2 linked regions of the Homo sapiens genome follow. The protein of the gene in region 1 interacts with the protein of each later gene in a pairwise test. Each region holds a gene or a part of one and is shown on either strand. Other genes may lie near its edges.

Region 1 (8,640 bases):
AGCCGGGTTAAAGGCTCCTTCAGCAAGGTCAAGGCGCGGCCGGCTGGCACCTGGGGATTTTTTTCCAGCCGAGCACTGGCTTTTCAATCGCATTGTTAAGGATCATGGCAGCGGCAGGAAATCCGAAGGGCCCCACAGGTCTGCGGGAGGGAGGATTTATTTTACAGCAAGGAACAGATTCAGACAGATCGGGGATTTCAGTGGGAGGGGACGAGAGGTTTCAGGACGCTGGAATGTGGCAAAAACAAAACACTCCCCACCCATGCACATCACCATCTCCTGACTGCGGGCTGGGGGGAAGGGAGTTCAGGGCCAATGTGTCCCAGACTTCAGCGTTCCCCACGGCTGTGTCAGGGCTGGGGTGGCTTATCCCCCTACAGACGAAAATCAAGATTTAAAAGCATACTCTTACTGTGGTTTCTCTATCAAAGCCCATCAACGTGATACACAGGCTGCGGCGCTGGAGGGAAGCGGCGAAACGGGGAGAATAAACGCAACAGAAGCAAACTGCTGTCTGCAGAGGCGAGAGGCGAAGGAACGGAAGCCATACCCGACCCCAGCCCCATCCCGTCCCCATCAGCGCCGGGCTAGCGCAGGAAACCAGGAATAGGTGTAGGTAAGGGTGGCAGCCCGGCAGAGCCAGCGTTCTACTCCCTCTAACCCCTCGCCAGCGTGGGCCTGGATGGCTGGGCTGCCTGGGCATCTCCAAGGGGGACCAGGCACCGCGGGCAGGTTTCTAAACACGTGAAGGGCACAGGGCTTGAAAGACAAGGAGGGGCGCCCAGGAAGGGCGGAAAAGAGGGGCTTTGGGGCTCCCCAGGACACCAAGTCAGTTTCTGAAAACGGCGTTCCCTGGAAGGCCTTCCAACACCTCCGAGGGAAGACTTGGAGCTCTGAAGACCCAATGAAACCTCAGTTCTGACTGACTCCTCCTCTGCGATCAATTCCGGATGCCCCCACTTAGTCCCTGCCTCGGTAACCGGTTCTTTGGGGACAGCAGCATCAGCACCCGACGCCCATCGCACAAGTGGGCGCCGTGGTGCGAGGCGTATCCTAGCTACCCAGGCCGGGGTGGGGGCGCCCCGGTACTTACACTCCCCAAGCAGGCAAACTTTCAGGCTTGTCTTTCGAGAACCGGGAGCTCGCATCACAGTTCCGGGTAATCACCGAGGCAGCTTATGTAATTGCCCGCGATGCCGCTCAGCAGATCTCTCTCCTTACTCGGCCTCAGAGCTCAGTACATGGGCACCCTCTTCCCCCCACCCCCCACCCCGGCGATTGGAATCCCGAGCTTGCCCCACCACCGCCTTCTACAAAGCAGCGGGGTGATCTCGTGTGCTACAAACACCAAGCCAGTATGCAGGTTCAGGCAAAACTCTGGCTGCCTCCCTGCGCCCCTTTCACTGCGTCGATGGTTTACAGATAACTGCATTTCTATAAACCCTCTCTCCACGGTTAGGGGGTGGGAGGGAGTTAGAGATCGGGTGGGGGCTTGGCGCGGTACTGTTGAGGGCTCTGCACCCAACTGAGCAGTAATACACTCATCCACATGGACGCGGGTGCATAAATCGCCTTAACATTTTGCCCTGAAAGCGGAGCCAATTTCCAAAGTTAAGGACCACGCAGCTGAATTTCCAGTACTTTCCAACCTCGCCTAGGCGGGGGCAGGCAGAGAAGGGGCGGGCAGCGGGCAGCTAACTCGCCCGACCCCCCCGCCAAGAAGGACTCACTAGGTGAACCCCCCGCCCTTCACCCAAGTAGTTGGTTGTGTATTCCTCGGTTGCGTGTGTGTGTCCACACACACACACACACACACACACACACGCCGCCCCACTACCTTCCAGTCTGCTCCTCCAATGTAACGACCGCATTTAAAAATGGCAATTAAAATGACTGAGGAGCTCGGTGATCACATTTCAACCCAGAGCACATTTCCCGAAGCTGGGGGTGAGAGTAGTCATACAGTCACACTCACACCCGGGAGCCCTCCAAGCGTCCATCTGGCGGCTGCAGCCTCAGTTGGCTCCTAGACGAACATCAATACCGCGGCCGGGCGCCCGGTGAGGAGAGGCGGGCGCCCCGCGGGTTGCAGAGGGCGAGGAGCTGGGGTCGCATCTCCAGGATCTGAGCTCCAACCACCGCCCGTGCGGGGCTGCTGCAGCCGGCACTTGCCCCGCAGGGCAGGCTGCAGCCGCTGAAGCCCGGCGCCGCCTCGCGGGCTCCTCCAGCGCCCGACGGGGGCCTGGGGCGAGCTAGTCTGCAGAGGGGCTGCAGGCGACCGGGCCGGGGCGGGGAACGGGATCCGGGAGAGGCAGACGAACCTGGGGCGCGCCGCCTCCCTCCCACCCGCTTCCCACCTCCCTGCCCTCCCCCAACCCTTGCTCCCAGGCTCCAGTCCGCGGCGGGCTCCGGGGGCTGCGGCGGCTCCAGGCTCCAGAACAGCTTGCCTCTTCGGCCACCCGCGCCCTAGCCTCCCTCCTCCTGGGCCAGGGGAGCAAGCAAACATCTCCCGGAGCCCTCGGCAGCCGCGTGAGCTACCCGAACCCTGCCCGGGCCAGCAGTGCAGAGGGCGATGGAGCTGGCGAGGCGTCGCCGCGGTCCCCAAGGCGCTTTTCCGTAGAGCGGATCACGCCGCCTTACCGTGGCTGCAGGCTGCTACCGCCGGGGAAGCGGCGAGGACGGCGGCAGGGAGGCAAGGCGCCGCGCCGGTGGCTCCTCTCTCTCTCGGCGGCGCGGCTCCTCTGCTCCGCGAGCCGTAGCGGGGCGCCCAGGAAGGAGCAGGTCCGGGCTCTGCGCTCAGCTCCAGCGAGACCAACAATAGCTCCCGCGGGGAGCGGAGCCCCAGCGAGCCTCCAGCCGCGCGCGCACGACCGGCTCCCGCTCCCGGCCGCTCCCGGCCGGCGTCCCTGCCAGCACTGCTGCCCCACATGAAACAGCTGCAATCCCGAGGCTTCTGGGGGGTTGGGGCGGGTGTGTGCGCGCGCGTGTGTGAGTGTGTGTGTGTGTGTGTGTGTTTAATAGCTTCCCTTCTCTTCTTCCCCTCCCTGCCTGCTCGCCTGCCTGCCTCCGTCCCCCACCCTCGCTCTCTTACACACAGAAAGAGAGGGCGAGCGAGAGAGAGACACACACACACACGCACACGCACACGCAGGTTACATGAATGGGAGGCGGTAGCCAATCCTACGAGGCCGGCGAGCCGCGCGGCGCACTGGCGCTGGGAGCAGGGCCGCACTCCGGCGCGGGGGGGCGCCACGCAGGTGATGGGCGCCTCTCCGGGGGCCACGCGCGGCCGCTCCCTCACCCCAGTCTCGGTTCCTCTGTCTCCTTCCCCCTTCCTCTCCGCCGCCTTCTCCATCTTCTCTCCTTTTACCTCCTTTGCTTTCTCGAGTTCTCCGAGCTCTCTCAGTTCGGTATCTTTCTGGTCTCTTTCTTCTTTTACCCTCCTTGCTTGCTTTCTCTTCCCCTTTCTGAAACTTTCTCTTTTCCTTTCTGGACTTTCTTGTACTTCCTCTCCTCTTGCCTTTTGTTCTTTCCTCCTCCTTTGGCTTTCTCTCCAGGCTCCCCGTAGCACGGTCTCGTCCCCTCTCCCTCCTCTTCGCCTTTCCCTGGGTCTCTCTGGCGCCCAGGGCCTCCCTTCTGCCTGCTCGCTGGATGTTACTCCACACCCCCCACCCCAACACTTTTCTAGGGACGGTCTCTTTCAAGTTGCTACTGCAGCACAATCAGAGTAATTAAGAGCTGAGATCTTGAGTTCCTTCTTCAGGCATGCAAGATGCCCAAAGAAAGGCCCTCCTTCCTCGGACAACTTCCCCAAAACCATGGTAACAGCTACTGAGTCGTGATAACAATCACTTAAAAAATAGCAGTGATTGCGGTCCAAGAGATTTCTGTCCCTCGAATGTTTGGATCGTGATGGCAAGCACATTTCCAAGAGAAGGGCATTTTTATGTGATGAGAGCGGTAGTTTGACTGAGTGGCAACTTGGAAGGGCTTTGGGGAAGAGACTGGAGGAATTCCCACTCCAGCCCTGCTGCCTGCTGGCTAAAGGACTTAGTGCGAGCCATTTCCCCTTACCCGGCTTCAGTTTTCTCATCTATAAAATGGATGATACCGACTTCACCAGTTTTGGTGAGGATTAAAAGAGAGAACAATGGAAAGAAAGCACTGGGTGTATATGAGATGCTTAATTTATGTTAGTTTCCTTCTTTAAGACAACTTCCTTCATGATCTTCTGCTACAGTGTGTCTCTCTGATCTAAAGTAGTCAATGAAGGAGGAAATGTGACAATGCTAATTTCACATAAATGTGAAAGGAGGGGTAGGCTATTTTGAAAACTCTTCTGTGTGGTGAGGAGACTGTCTAGCCAGTTGCCATATGCTGATTATAAAGGCATCACAGATTATAAACGTGGGGTGCTGGAATGCCCCTTCAACATCTCATAACTAGGGCATCTCAGAAAGGCAGGGATGGGTTGGGGTGGGTGGGAAGTTTCCACACAATCTGTCCAATCTATTTTTAAAATCTTTATGATAAGTGTACAGTGACCAGTGACAAAGCCTCTGAGATTAACTAAAATGTCAAGTCTCTGCCTTTGAATAGCATTTATCAACTTTGTGTCCTCACTGCAGACATCAAATGCTGGGCATCAGCTGTGATTGGCAGTTAGATTTAGTCCTTCAACAAATATTTCTTGACCACCTACTTTGTGGCAGGTGCTGTGATAGGTCTCGGCATTCAGTGGTGAGACAAACAGGCCCTGTTTTCTGAGCTTACAGTTCAGTAGGCATGTTTCATGAATGTACACTGAGAAAATGAGACACATGTACCTGAAGGAGTAACATTGGTTTGGTGGACAAATTCTTTCATTACAGAAGATCCAAGACAGGGAGTATAAGAAAGGGATCTTTGAGAGTGATAATTTTGCAAATCACTTTCAGTCTATGCATTTCATTTGACCAGTGAGAAAAATGAGACCCAGATGCTAAAAGTAGTGGGTGAAAGTATGTTGAGAAACAAAAAATATATATAGGTTCAAAGTATCTGCCCACATGATACTGATTAATTTCAAAGGGGAAAATAGTAACTTTTCAATAGAAAACCTGAAAGACTCCACCTTGAGTGATTAAAATCAGTATTAGCAGGAATGTGACAAATAGACATCAAGTGGCCCCTGATATAGTGCACTGGGAAGGACATATCACTTCTGTGATATTCCTGGTAGACATGAATAACCTGAATCTAATCATGAGGGATGCCCAATGGAATTGTTGGGAGTAAGGGAAGACTTCCCATAGGAGATGACAGGTTCTCACTCTGTCATCCAGGCTGGAGTGCAGTGGTGCCATCTTGGTTCACTGAAGCCTCAACCTCCTGAGCTCAGGTGATCCTCCCACCTCAGCCTCTTGAGTAGCTGGGACCACAGGCATGTGCCACCACACCACGCCAAACTAATTTTATTTGTTTGTTTGTTTGTTTTACAGATGAGGTCTCACTATGTTGCCCAGGCTGGTCTCAAATACCATCAATCCTCTGCCCTAGGCTTCCCAGAGTGCTGGGATTATAGGTGTGAGCTACCATACCTGGCCTTGAGCTGAGTTTTGAAGGCAAGGAATTAGCTAGACCGTGAAAGGAGGGGAGATGCTTTTTAGGTACAGGCAATAGTATGATGACATGGACAAAAGCATGAGACACTCATAGCAGAGTTGGACATATTGGGGGAGGGTCTTGGAGGAGTCTAGATGAGTCCCTAGCATCTAGGATTGGATTTTGACAGGGCCTGAAGGAGGCTAAGGATCCAAACATCCTGAAAGTTCAGGTACTGGGGCAGAAGGAGGGTAGACAGTTAATAAAGGCTTTTAAGAAGAGGAAGGATGTGATCTTGAGTGTGTTTTCAAAAGATGATTTGGCAGCAGTGTAGAGAAATGGATTAACTGGGGTGACTTAGGAAGAGTAGAGGCAGGAAAAAGTAGGTCATTTAGGGAAACTAAGGCAGTTGCAATGAAGCCAGAAAAGGGAGGAGAGATTTGAGAGAGATTGAGGATGATTTTGATTTCTGATTGGATGGGGGTAGCAAGGAGAAGCCCAAAGTGACACTCAGTTTTCAAGCTTGGGTATCTCAATAGAAGGTGGTACTACTCATTGCGATGTCAAGAGTATTCAGGAGGAAGTAGAATTCAGGGAGCATTTTAGAGGGGGGAAAAAAGGTCAGTTGCTACCATGTTATAATCTAACTCTATAGCTAACCGGAGATTCTCCTATATGGCTGCTCTGTGCCATAGGAAACACTAGTTGTAAAATTCAGCCTAAGACCTCCAAACAGCCAGCTCTACGTATTGCCCAGAAAAACAGGAGATTGGATATAATGACAGTACATTATTTGTAATAATGGGAAAAAAATTGAAGCAGCCTAAATGGTCAAATAAAATAAGTAAACTGGAGGACAGCCTTTGTTGGAATATTATGCAGCTACTCGAAAGTGTTTTTGCAGTTTTTCGTGCCATAAAAAAGTTAGTATTGTCATATATAATATTTTAAAAGAGAATTCAAAATTGTTAGCTACATAAAAACCCTCTTGCAGAAAAGTCTGAAGAAAAAAATGCCAAATATTAACCGTGTTTTCTTCTGGGTGATGGGGTTATGAGTAATATATATTTTCTTCTTTATACTTTTTCTGGCATTTTATAATCTTCCTACTATAAACATTCATTATTCCATTATAAAAACTTTTTAAAGCTGCCATTAAAAAAACACAAAGACATGGCTATGATCATTCCCCCTCCCCTGACTTTATCCCTTTTCAATCCACCGTTCCCACTCCCCCTGAAGAGTAACTGCGTTTTGAGTTTTATCTCTGAGAGTGAAATAAGGAGGCATTTAACAAATCAGGGGAAATTAGTAGCTGGGCTAGAGAGGGGGAGAGGGCATTCTTATGGAGGCAGATACATTATGAGAGCTGTTGAAACTGTATATATTAAAGATGTTTGCATTGCCCTTATTGATTCTGTGATATGTTACAAGCAAAAGAAAACATATAGTGGGGTCAAGAAAATGTGAGTCTTTAAAGGGCAAGTTTTAATTAGCAAATGTATTTATTTGCAAAAAAAAAATCCTTCCCTTCAGAGTCCAGCTGTTACTATAAAATTGTTTCAGGGAGTAAGTACTTCAAAGCAAGAAGACACTGAGGAGCAAGAGGCAATGCCTCATGCCTGTTGTCTGACACCACATCAAATATGCAAGTTGGTTACTTAGGATTTGGACACCTACTGATAAATGCCATCAAACTTCCATAATTAGAGGGTGAGAAAAGTGCCTGCCAGAGGATAGTCTCAGTCTTTGGAAAAGTTGCTGTAAATAGTTCCCTGGTGAGGTTACATCTGCATCTCTGATTTTCGTCTCACAGAAATATTTACCCTGTGGGTAATTTCCCCAACCTAATAATAATAACACCTTACACAGCATAGCCCTTTCACCTTTTCAAAGGGCCTCCGCATCTGTTGATTGACTCAATCCTTGTACCCACGCCTGCTGGAATCCTACTTCCAGTGTGCACCAAGAGGAAGAGGGACCCAGAGAGGTTCAAACAAAGAGGCAGAGCAGGGGCTAGAACTAAAAGAAGGAATAAGAGACATTCTTGAAGAGCCTTCTGTGTGGCCCTGGAGCTTCCACGGTGTGTTATCACATAGAATTGTGATAACTAGAGGGGGAGAGTGAACACACTGAGGCTTGTGAGGTTCTGGCTCAGCCGAATCAGAATCAGAATCCAGCTCTCCAGAACTCCCAAGCCACTTGCCTTTCCCAGCATAGCCCCATTTTTAAAAGCCAAGAGGTGAGGCTGGTGGTGATTTTCTGTCTGACTGACTCCATTTAATCTGTGAGCTGTCTTTCTGTGAGGTTTGTCTAACCTGTGAGTTGTCTTTCTGTCTTATAGGTATTAGAAGCTAGTGTTTGGGGATTTGGTGATTAACAATGACTTTTGAATTATCTCATAGAAAATAAGGGGAAAGCCTCTGCTTGGGTTCACCATACATATTCCCTAAAAGGGAAATGATTGGAGCTTGTCCTCCATTTCACCCCTCATCCTGAAATGTTTAGCAAAGTACTGGCACTTACAGGTTCTTAGTAAATATTCCTTCACTGAGTGAAGAAATGAATGCTAATAACAACAATAGCTAGCATGCATTGAGCATTTTGCCAGGGGATGAGCAAAAGGCATTATCTTATTTAAATTGTAATGCTATACTTTGTGGTAGATATAATTATTATCCCTAATCCATGGGTCAGAAAACTGAGAAGTTAAGCAAATTATACAGTCACATAACTAATAAATGGCAAGGCCAAAGTCCACCTTGGATTGTTCTCAGCTACCACACTTTATTGGATGGATGGATGGATGGATGGACAGATACAATTAATAATACCAGCAGTGCACCGGGCATGGTGCCTCAGGTCTGTAATCCCAGCACTTTGGGAGGCTGAGGTGGGTGGATCACCTGAGGTCAGGAGTTCGAGACCAGCCTGACCAACATGGAGAAACACCATCTCTACTAAAAATACAAAATTAGCCAGGTGTGGTGGCCCACGCCTATAATCCCAGCTACTCGGGAGGCTGAGGCAGGAGAATCTCTTGAACCTGGGAGGCAG
Region 2 (7,829 bases), on another chromosome or scaffold:
AGGTTCAAGCAATTCTGCTGCCTCAGCCTTCCTAGTAGCTGGGATTACAGGTGTGCGCCACCACACCTGGCTAACTTTTGTCATTTTAGTAGAGACGGGGATTCATCATGTTGACCAGGCTGATCTGGAACTCTTGACCTCAAGTGATCCACCTGCCTTGGCCTCCCAAAGGGCTGGGATTATAGGCATGAGCCACCGTGTCTGGCCAAGAATAAATTTTCTTTTTCTTTTCTTTTTCTTTTTTTTTTTTTTTTTTTTTTTTTGAGATGGAGTCTCGTTCTGTCACCAGGTTGGAGTACTGTGGCACGATCCCGGCTCACTGCAACCTCCGACTCCCTGGTTCAAGCGATTCTCCTGCCTCAGCTTCCTGAGTAGCTGGGATTACAGGCGCGCGCCACCATGCCCAGCTAATTTTTGTATTTTTAGTAGAGACAGAGTTTCACTATGCTGGCCAGGATGGTCTCGATCGATCTCCTGACCTCGTGATCTGTCCGCCTTGGCATCCCAAAGTGCTGGGATTACAGGCGTGAGCCACCATGTCCAGCCCAAGAACAAATTTTCTGAGAGGTCCCACTCCTCCTGGAAAACATCCCCAATTCCTTCTGCTCCCTAAACCTGACCACGAACTCTATCTACCCTTCCCCTACCTCCCACCCCAAAACCCTCAGCCCACTCCCTTTCTGGCTGTCTCAGATTCCCTGGAGATCCGTGCCCCCTCCCCACCATCCATCTCTGTTTCCCCAAGCCATACCGGGTTGAAGGTTGGGGGTCCTTCCATGGTCTGTGAAGTGAGGAAGAAGCGATATTATTCTCCAAGAGTCGACAGATATCTATGACACACCCATTAGACTCCGGCGTTTCTCTAGGTGCTGGGTTAGTACACCTTGGGCTGCAACCCCTCTTAGCTCCCCCTACCCCAATTCTCACCATTCCCACTCCTCACCCGGGGCCCTCCCAGCCCTCCCACTCACGGGCAGGCTGTTCAGCTGTTGATGGCAATGTCCGGGACCCTGAACGATGGACAGAAGGCAGGAAGGGTGAGAGGGGCTGAGGGACCCCACTAGGGAGGAAGACCCTCACCTATCAGCAAGTACTTACAGGGTAAGGTGGCATCATCGGGGGTCCCTGTGGGCACAGAAAGAGAAAGCGGTTATGAGAGGGTCCCCAGATTTGCGACTGAAAGATGTCGAGAGTGCCTGCCCTGGGGTGGCCCACCACCACCACCACTATGCCAGAGAACTCTGGCATCAAAGGGTGGCACCCCGATCACAGATTCACGGAGAGGGGCACCCCATGTTCTGGGATCGCTGATGCCCAGTGAGTCACCCCAAAGCTTTAGGACAATGCTTGGTCCATTTTGTTCTCTGTGCCCTTCCCCTTGCTGTCTTCCTGCTGTCCCGGGGCCCTCACTCGCTGATCTTGATCTCAGTTTCTGCCTCTGTCCCTGTGTCTCTGCCTCTCTCTCTGTCTTGGCCACACCTCAGCGCAGGGGCTTCCTTCTGCCAAACACTTTTATTTATTTATTTGAGATGGAATTTCGCTCTTGTTGCCCAGGGTGCCGTGCAGTGGCACGATCTCTGCTCACCTCAACCTCTGCCTCCTGGGTTCAAGTGATTCTCCTGCCTCAGCCTCCGGTGTAGCTGGGATTACAAGCATGCGCCACCACGCCCAGCTAATTTTGTATTTTTAATAGAGATGGGGTTTCTCCATGTTGGTCAGGCTGGTCTCAAACTCCCGACCTCAGGTGATCCGCTCGCCTCACCCTCCCAAGTCTAACACCTTTAACTTTTACTCTCTCTCTTTCTCTCTGTTACCTTCTCTTTTCTCCTCCTTGTAATTAACTCCATTCTGCCTTGACTTCTATTCTCAGCCAGCTATTCTGAAGGCCTTTTAAAAGTAGCTTTATATAGCCGGGCGTGGTGGCAGGTGCCTGTAATCACAGCTACTTGGGAGGCTGAGGAAGAATTCCTTAAACCTGGGAGGCAGAGGGTGCAGTGAGCTGAGATCATGCCACTGCACTCCAACCTGGGCCACAGAGCAAGACTCCATCTAAAAAAAAAACAAAAAACAAAAAACAAACAAACAAATAAACGTAGCTTTATAAGCCGGGGGCTGTGGCTCACGCCTGTAATCTCAGGACTTTGGGAGGCTGAGGTGGGTGGATCACCTGAGGTCAGGAGTTCAAGACCAGCCTGGACAACATAGGAAAATTCCTCCCCTCTGTCTTTACAAAAAATTTAAAAACTAGCTGGGGCTGGTGGTGCGTGCCTGTAGTCCCAGCTACTCAGGAGACTGAGGTGGGAGGATCACTTGAACCCAGGAAGTCAAGAATACAGTAGGCTGTGATTGCACCACCACACTCCAGCCTGGGTGACAGAGCCAGACCCTGCCTCAAAAATAATAATAATAATAATAATAATAATAATAATAATAATAATATTGATAAACTCAATTTAATTGTATGTTATTTATTTTTAATGATTGTGTTAAGCAACCTCTAGGGAATTCATTCACTATCGTGTGTTCTTTGCCTTTCCTTATCCTCACTTTCTGACTCACCTTACACACTTCCTCCTACTCCAGGAAGCACTTCCTTCCTGACCCATGACTAGTCAAGCCCTTCCTGTAGGCTCCCAAACCTCCTGTATACTCCATATCCCAGCCCCTGCCCCTCTGCCTGTGCCCTCCCTATCACAGACCTGACCATTTCTGGGCTGTCACTCTCTGATGCCATGTCTGTGAGCCCAGTGAGGTCAGGGCCCAGAGATATCTCAGTCATTCCTGTCTCCAGCCCTGGGCCTGACCCCTCTGCCTGCCTCCACCCACCCTCCTGTCCTGGCCCTGATCCCTCTGTCTGGGCCCAAACCCAACTGCAACCCTTCAGCCAGGGCCTCCCCATCCCGGCCTTTATCCCTTGCAGTGATGGGTCTGTCTTCCCAGTGGGATCCCTTGATCATCACTGGGCTCTTGGCATAACTCAGCAGAGGGAGATGCTTGGGAAATAAATGAATGTGGAATGCGCTGGGCACCATGGCTCACACCTGTAATCCCAGCACTCTGGGAGACTGTAGCCAGCAGATCACTTGAGGCCAGGAGTTCCAGACCAGCCTGGCCAACATGGTGAAACCCCGTCTCTACTAAAAATACAAAAATTAGCCAGATGTGATGGTGGGTGCCTGTAATCCCAGCTACTTGGGAGGCTGAGGCAGGAGAATTGCTTAAAACTGGGAGGCAGAGGTTGCAGTGAGCCAGAATCACACCACTGTACTCCAGCCTGGGAGACAGAGCAAGACTCCATCTCAAAAAGAAAAAATAGACCAACTGCGGTGGCTCACGCCTGTAATCCCAGCACTTTGGGAAGTCGAGGTGGGTGGATCATGAGGTAAGGAGATCGAGACCATCTTGGCTAACACAGTGAAACCCTGTCTCTACTAAAAATACAAAAAAATTAGCCGGGCGTGGTGGCAGGCTCCTGTAGTCCCAGCTATTTGGGAGGCTGAGGCAGGAGAATGGCGTGAACCTGGGAGGCGGAGCTTGCAGTGAGCCAAGATCGCGCCACTGCACTCCAACCTGGGCGACAGAGTGAGACTCCGTCTCAAAAAAAAAAGAAAAAAAGAAAAAAAGAAAAAAAATGAATGTGGAACTGAATTTAGAAAGAAAGGACGCAAGAAGGGATGGGACCCCTCACACCTGGGGCCGGAGGGGCTGGCCTCCGATGAAGTTGATTGATTGAAGTTGCAGATCCCCATCCACTTGCAGGTGGGTGACCATCTGTAGGGGAAGCCGGTGCCCGTACTCATAGAAGGGATTTCCATTTACCACCACCTGGAGGGCAGAGATGGGAGGTCAGGAGTCAGCACCCATGATCCTGGGAAGGTACAAACAGGAAGCAAGGGCAGGGCACCCTGGCTCACGCCTCTAATCCCAGCACTTTGGGAGGCTGAGGGGGGTGGATCATTTGAGATCAGGAGTGTGAGACCAGTCTGGCCAACATAGTGAAACCCCATCTCTACTAAAAATACAAAAATTAGCCAGGCATGGTGGCGGGCTCCTGTAATCCCAGATACTCAGGAGGCTGAGGCAGGAGAATCGCCTGAACCCGGGAGGTGGAGGTTGCAGTGAGTGGAGATCACGCTGCTGCACTCCAGCTTGGGTGACAGAGCAAGACTCTGTCTCAAAAAAAAAAAAAAGCAAGGATCAGGGATCTTTTTCATTGGGAGTCGATAGTCTTGGGGATGAGCTGGGACAGCCTCAGCATCAGGAACCTTGGAGTCCACAGCTCAGAGGTCAAGCTAAGGTCAAAAATCAGCTCACTGGCCGGGCGCAGTGGCTCATGCCTGTAATCCCAGCACTTTAGGAAGCCAAGGTGGGGGATCATTTGAGATCAAGAGTTCGAGACCAGCTTGAGAAACATAGCAAGACCCCGTCTTTACAAAAATATACAAAAATTAGCCGGGCGTGGTGGTGTGCACCTAGAGTCCCAGCTACTCCGGAGGCTAATGTGAGAGGATCACCTGAGCCCGGGGAGGTTGAGGCTGTAGTGAGCTGTTTGCATCACTGCACTCCAGCCTGGGCAACAGAGCGAGACCCAGTCTCAAGAGGAAAACAAAAAGTACACGTTTTGCAAAAAACACAAAGTGGTAGGAGGAAATACACATGAAATGTATTACAAGACTCTCAGCAGTAGGGTAATGGGACTAAGGAAAAGCGCTAAAAGAGGATTTTTAAAAATAGGCAGGAAACGGCCGCCCTTCGTCTGGGAGGTGAGGAGCGCCTCTGCCCGGCCGCCCCGTCTGGGAAGTGAGGAGCGCCTCTGCCAGGCCGCCCTGTCTGGGAAGTGTACCCAACAGCTCCGAAGAGACAGCGACCATCAAGAATGGGCCATGATGACGATGGCGGTTTTGTCGAAAAGAAAAGGGGGAAATGTGGGGAAAAGAAAGAGAGATCAGATTGTTACTGTGTCTGTGTAGAAAGAAGTAGACATAGAAGACTCCATTTTGTTCTGTACTAAGAAAAATTCTTCTGCCTTGAGTTGCTGTTAATCTGTAACCTTACCCTGTGTTCCCTGAGACATGTGGTGTGTCAACTCAGGGTTAAATGGATTAAGGGCTGTGCAGGATGTGCTTTGTTAAACAGAGGCTTGAAGGCAGCATGCTCCTTAAGAGTCATCACCACTCCCTAATCTCAAGTACCCAGGGACACAAACACTGTGGAAGGCCGCAGGGCCCTCTGCCTAGGAAAACCAGAGACCTTTGTTCACGTGTTTATCTGCTGACCTTCTCTCCACTATTATCCTATGACCCTGCCACATCCCCCTCTCTGAGAAACACCCAAGAATGATCAATAAATAAAAATAAATAAATAAATAAATAATAAAATAAAATAAAATAGGCAGGAAAGAAGGAAAAGAAAAGAAAGAAGTTGACATAAAAAGTGGGGATGGAAAAAGGAAATAAATGAAGGAGGGAAGGAGAGAGAAGGAAGAAGAGAGGAGGGAAGGGGGAAGGAAGGAGGGGAGGAAAGAGGAGAGAACAGAGAAAGAGGAAGGAAAAAGAGGAAAAAGAAGGAAGGGGCTGGGTGTGGTGGCTCACGCCTGTAATTCCAGCACTTTGGGAGGCCAAGGAGGGCAGAACACCTGAGGTCGGGAGTTCGAGGCCAGCCTGGGCAACATGGTGAAACCCCATCTCTACTCAAAATACAGAAATTAGCTGAGCGTGGTGGCACGCGCCTATAATCCCAGCTACTCGGGAGGCTGAGGCAGGAGAAGCTCTTGAACCCAGCAGGCAGAGGTTGCAGTAAGCTGAGATCATGCCACTGCACTCCAGCCTGGGCAACAGAGTGAAACTCCATCTCAAAAAAAAAAAAAAAAAAAAGAAAGAAAGAAAGAAAAGGAAGGAAGGCGGGAAGGAAGGAAGCAGCCAAGATGGCGCCACTGCACTCCAGCTTGGGAAACAAGAGAGAAAGCATGCAGACCTTGTAGTGCTCAGCCAGGACTATGAAGACCAGCTCAAAGGCGGCACCCTTTTTGAAGGGCATGCTCCTCTTCCTCTCCTCGCTGCCCCACTTCCCGCCCTGCAACGTGTTGAAGACCACCTTGTCCCAGCCGTCAAACCGCGGATTGAAGTGGAAGGCGACGTCTGAGCCCGGATCCTGCCCAACCACAAAGTTCACGAAGAACCTGGCGGGACACAAAGGGCTCATTCCCCTGGTGCCACCTCCCGGGGCCTGGGGGCCTCCTCCAGGAAGCCCTCTCCCTGCCGCCCTGTCCTCGGCCTCCCTGGCCCGGACCTCAGCACCAGCTCTGAGGGGCAACCTTGGCACTGTGGGCCACAGCGTGGAGAGGACCTGAGTTCTGAGGGGGGCAGATTCCCACCACCACACCTTCGCTCACAGCCTTTCCTTCTTTTTTTTTTTTTTTTTTTTTTTGAGATGGAGTCTTGCTCTGTTGCCCAGGCTGGAGTTGGAGTGCCGCGATCTCAGCTCACTGCAACCTCCGCCTCCTGGATTCCAGTGATTCTCCTGCCTCAGCCTCCCAAGTAGCTGGGATTACAGGCGTGCACCACCACGTCCGGCTAATTTTTGTATTTTTAGTAGAGACAGGGTTTCACCATGTTGGCCAGGCTGATCTCAAACTCCTGACCTCAGGTGATCCACCTGCCTCGGCTTCCCAAAGTGCTGGGATTACAGGTGTGAGACACCGTGCCTGACATTTTTTTTCTTGAGACAGGGTCTTGTGTTCTCACCCTGTCCCCCAGGCTGGAGTACAGTGGCCACGATGGTGGCTCACTGCAGCCTCAACCTCCTGGGTCAACTGATTCTCCTGCCTCAGCCTCCCTAGTAGCTGGGACTACAGGTGCATGCCACTATGCCTGGCTTTTTTTTTTTTTTTTTTTTTTTTTTGTAGAGATGGGGTCTCACTATGTTGCCGAGGCTGGTCTCAAACTCCCGGGCTCAAGCAATCCTACCACCTCGGCCTCTCAGAGTGCTGGGATTACAGGTGTGAGTTGCTGTACCCAGCCCACCTTGCCTTCTTAGACCACCTCCTCCACCCTCTTCCCAACTTCCAGTTATGACTGTTACAAGTCTGCCACGGGCCAGGCCCTGTCCTATGCACTTTGGGTCTCCCTGCTCCCCTCCTGGCCCTGAAGATCATTTCCCTCATGCAGCCAGAGGGTCCCTGTGTACACCCATGACGCATCATATTCCGCACCCCTGGGCACACCAGCATCCTTGAAATTACTCCCCAGGACAGGCCTGTCTCAGGGCCTTTGCACTGGCTGTTCCCTCTGCCTGGAAGGCCCTTCCCTCAGCTGTCCCTGGGGATCCCTCTCTCCGTTCCTTCTGTTCTTTGCTGATATGTTCCCTTCCCAGGCAGGCCTTCTCTGGCCACCTTTTTAATTTTTTTGAGACAGTCTCCCTTTGTCACCTAGGCTGGAGTGCAGTGATGCGATCTCAGCTCACTGCAAACTCTGCCTTCAGGATTCAAGTGATTCTCCCACATCAGGCTCTCAAGTAGCTGGGATTACAGGCACCTGTCACCATGCCTGGCTAATTTTGTATTTTCAGCAGAGATGAGATTTCGCCTTTTTTTTTTTTTTTTTTTTTTTTTTGAGATGGAGTCTCGCTCTTTCGCCCAGGCTGGAGTGCAGTGGCGCAATCTTGGCTCACTGCAAGCTCCGCCTCCTGGTTTCACGCCATTCTCCTGCCTCAGCCTCCCGAGTAGCTGGGACTACAGGCACCCGCCACCATGCCCAGCTAATTTTTTGTATTTTTAGTAGAGACGGGGTTTCACTGTGTTAGCCAGGATGGTCTCGATCTCCTGACCTCGT

What was found. Proteins that work in one complex are often made in the same cells at the same time.
Region 2: the proteins of TENM4 (region 1) and LGALS4 interact in binary tests that used the Homo sapiens proteins (3 or more experiments, as listed by UniProt).

What each region holds. Positions count from the first base shown.
Region 1 is NC_000011.10:79,437,869-79,446,508, forward strand, and holds the start of TENM4 (teneurin-4), read right to left. Parts: upstream 3,163-8,640; 5' UTR 2,641-3,162; intron 1-2,640. UniProt on the Homo sapiens protein: Involved in neural development, regulating the establishment of proper connectivity within the nervous system. Plays a role in the establishment of the anterior-posterior axis during gastrulation.
Region 2 is NC_000019.10:38,802,771-38,810,599, forward strand, and holds part of LGALS4 (galectin-4), read right to left. Parts: intron 6,179-7,829; coding exon 5,974-6,178; intron 3,826-5,973; coding exon 3,691-3,825; intron 1,126-3,690; coding exon 1,099-1,125; intron 1,011-1,098; coding exon 972-1,010; intron 782-971; coding exon 752-781; intron 1-751. UniProt on the Homo sapiens protein: Galectin that binds lactose and a related range of sugars. May be involved in the assembly of adherens junctions.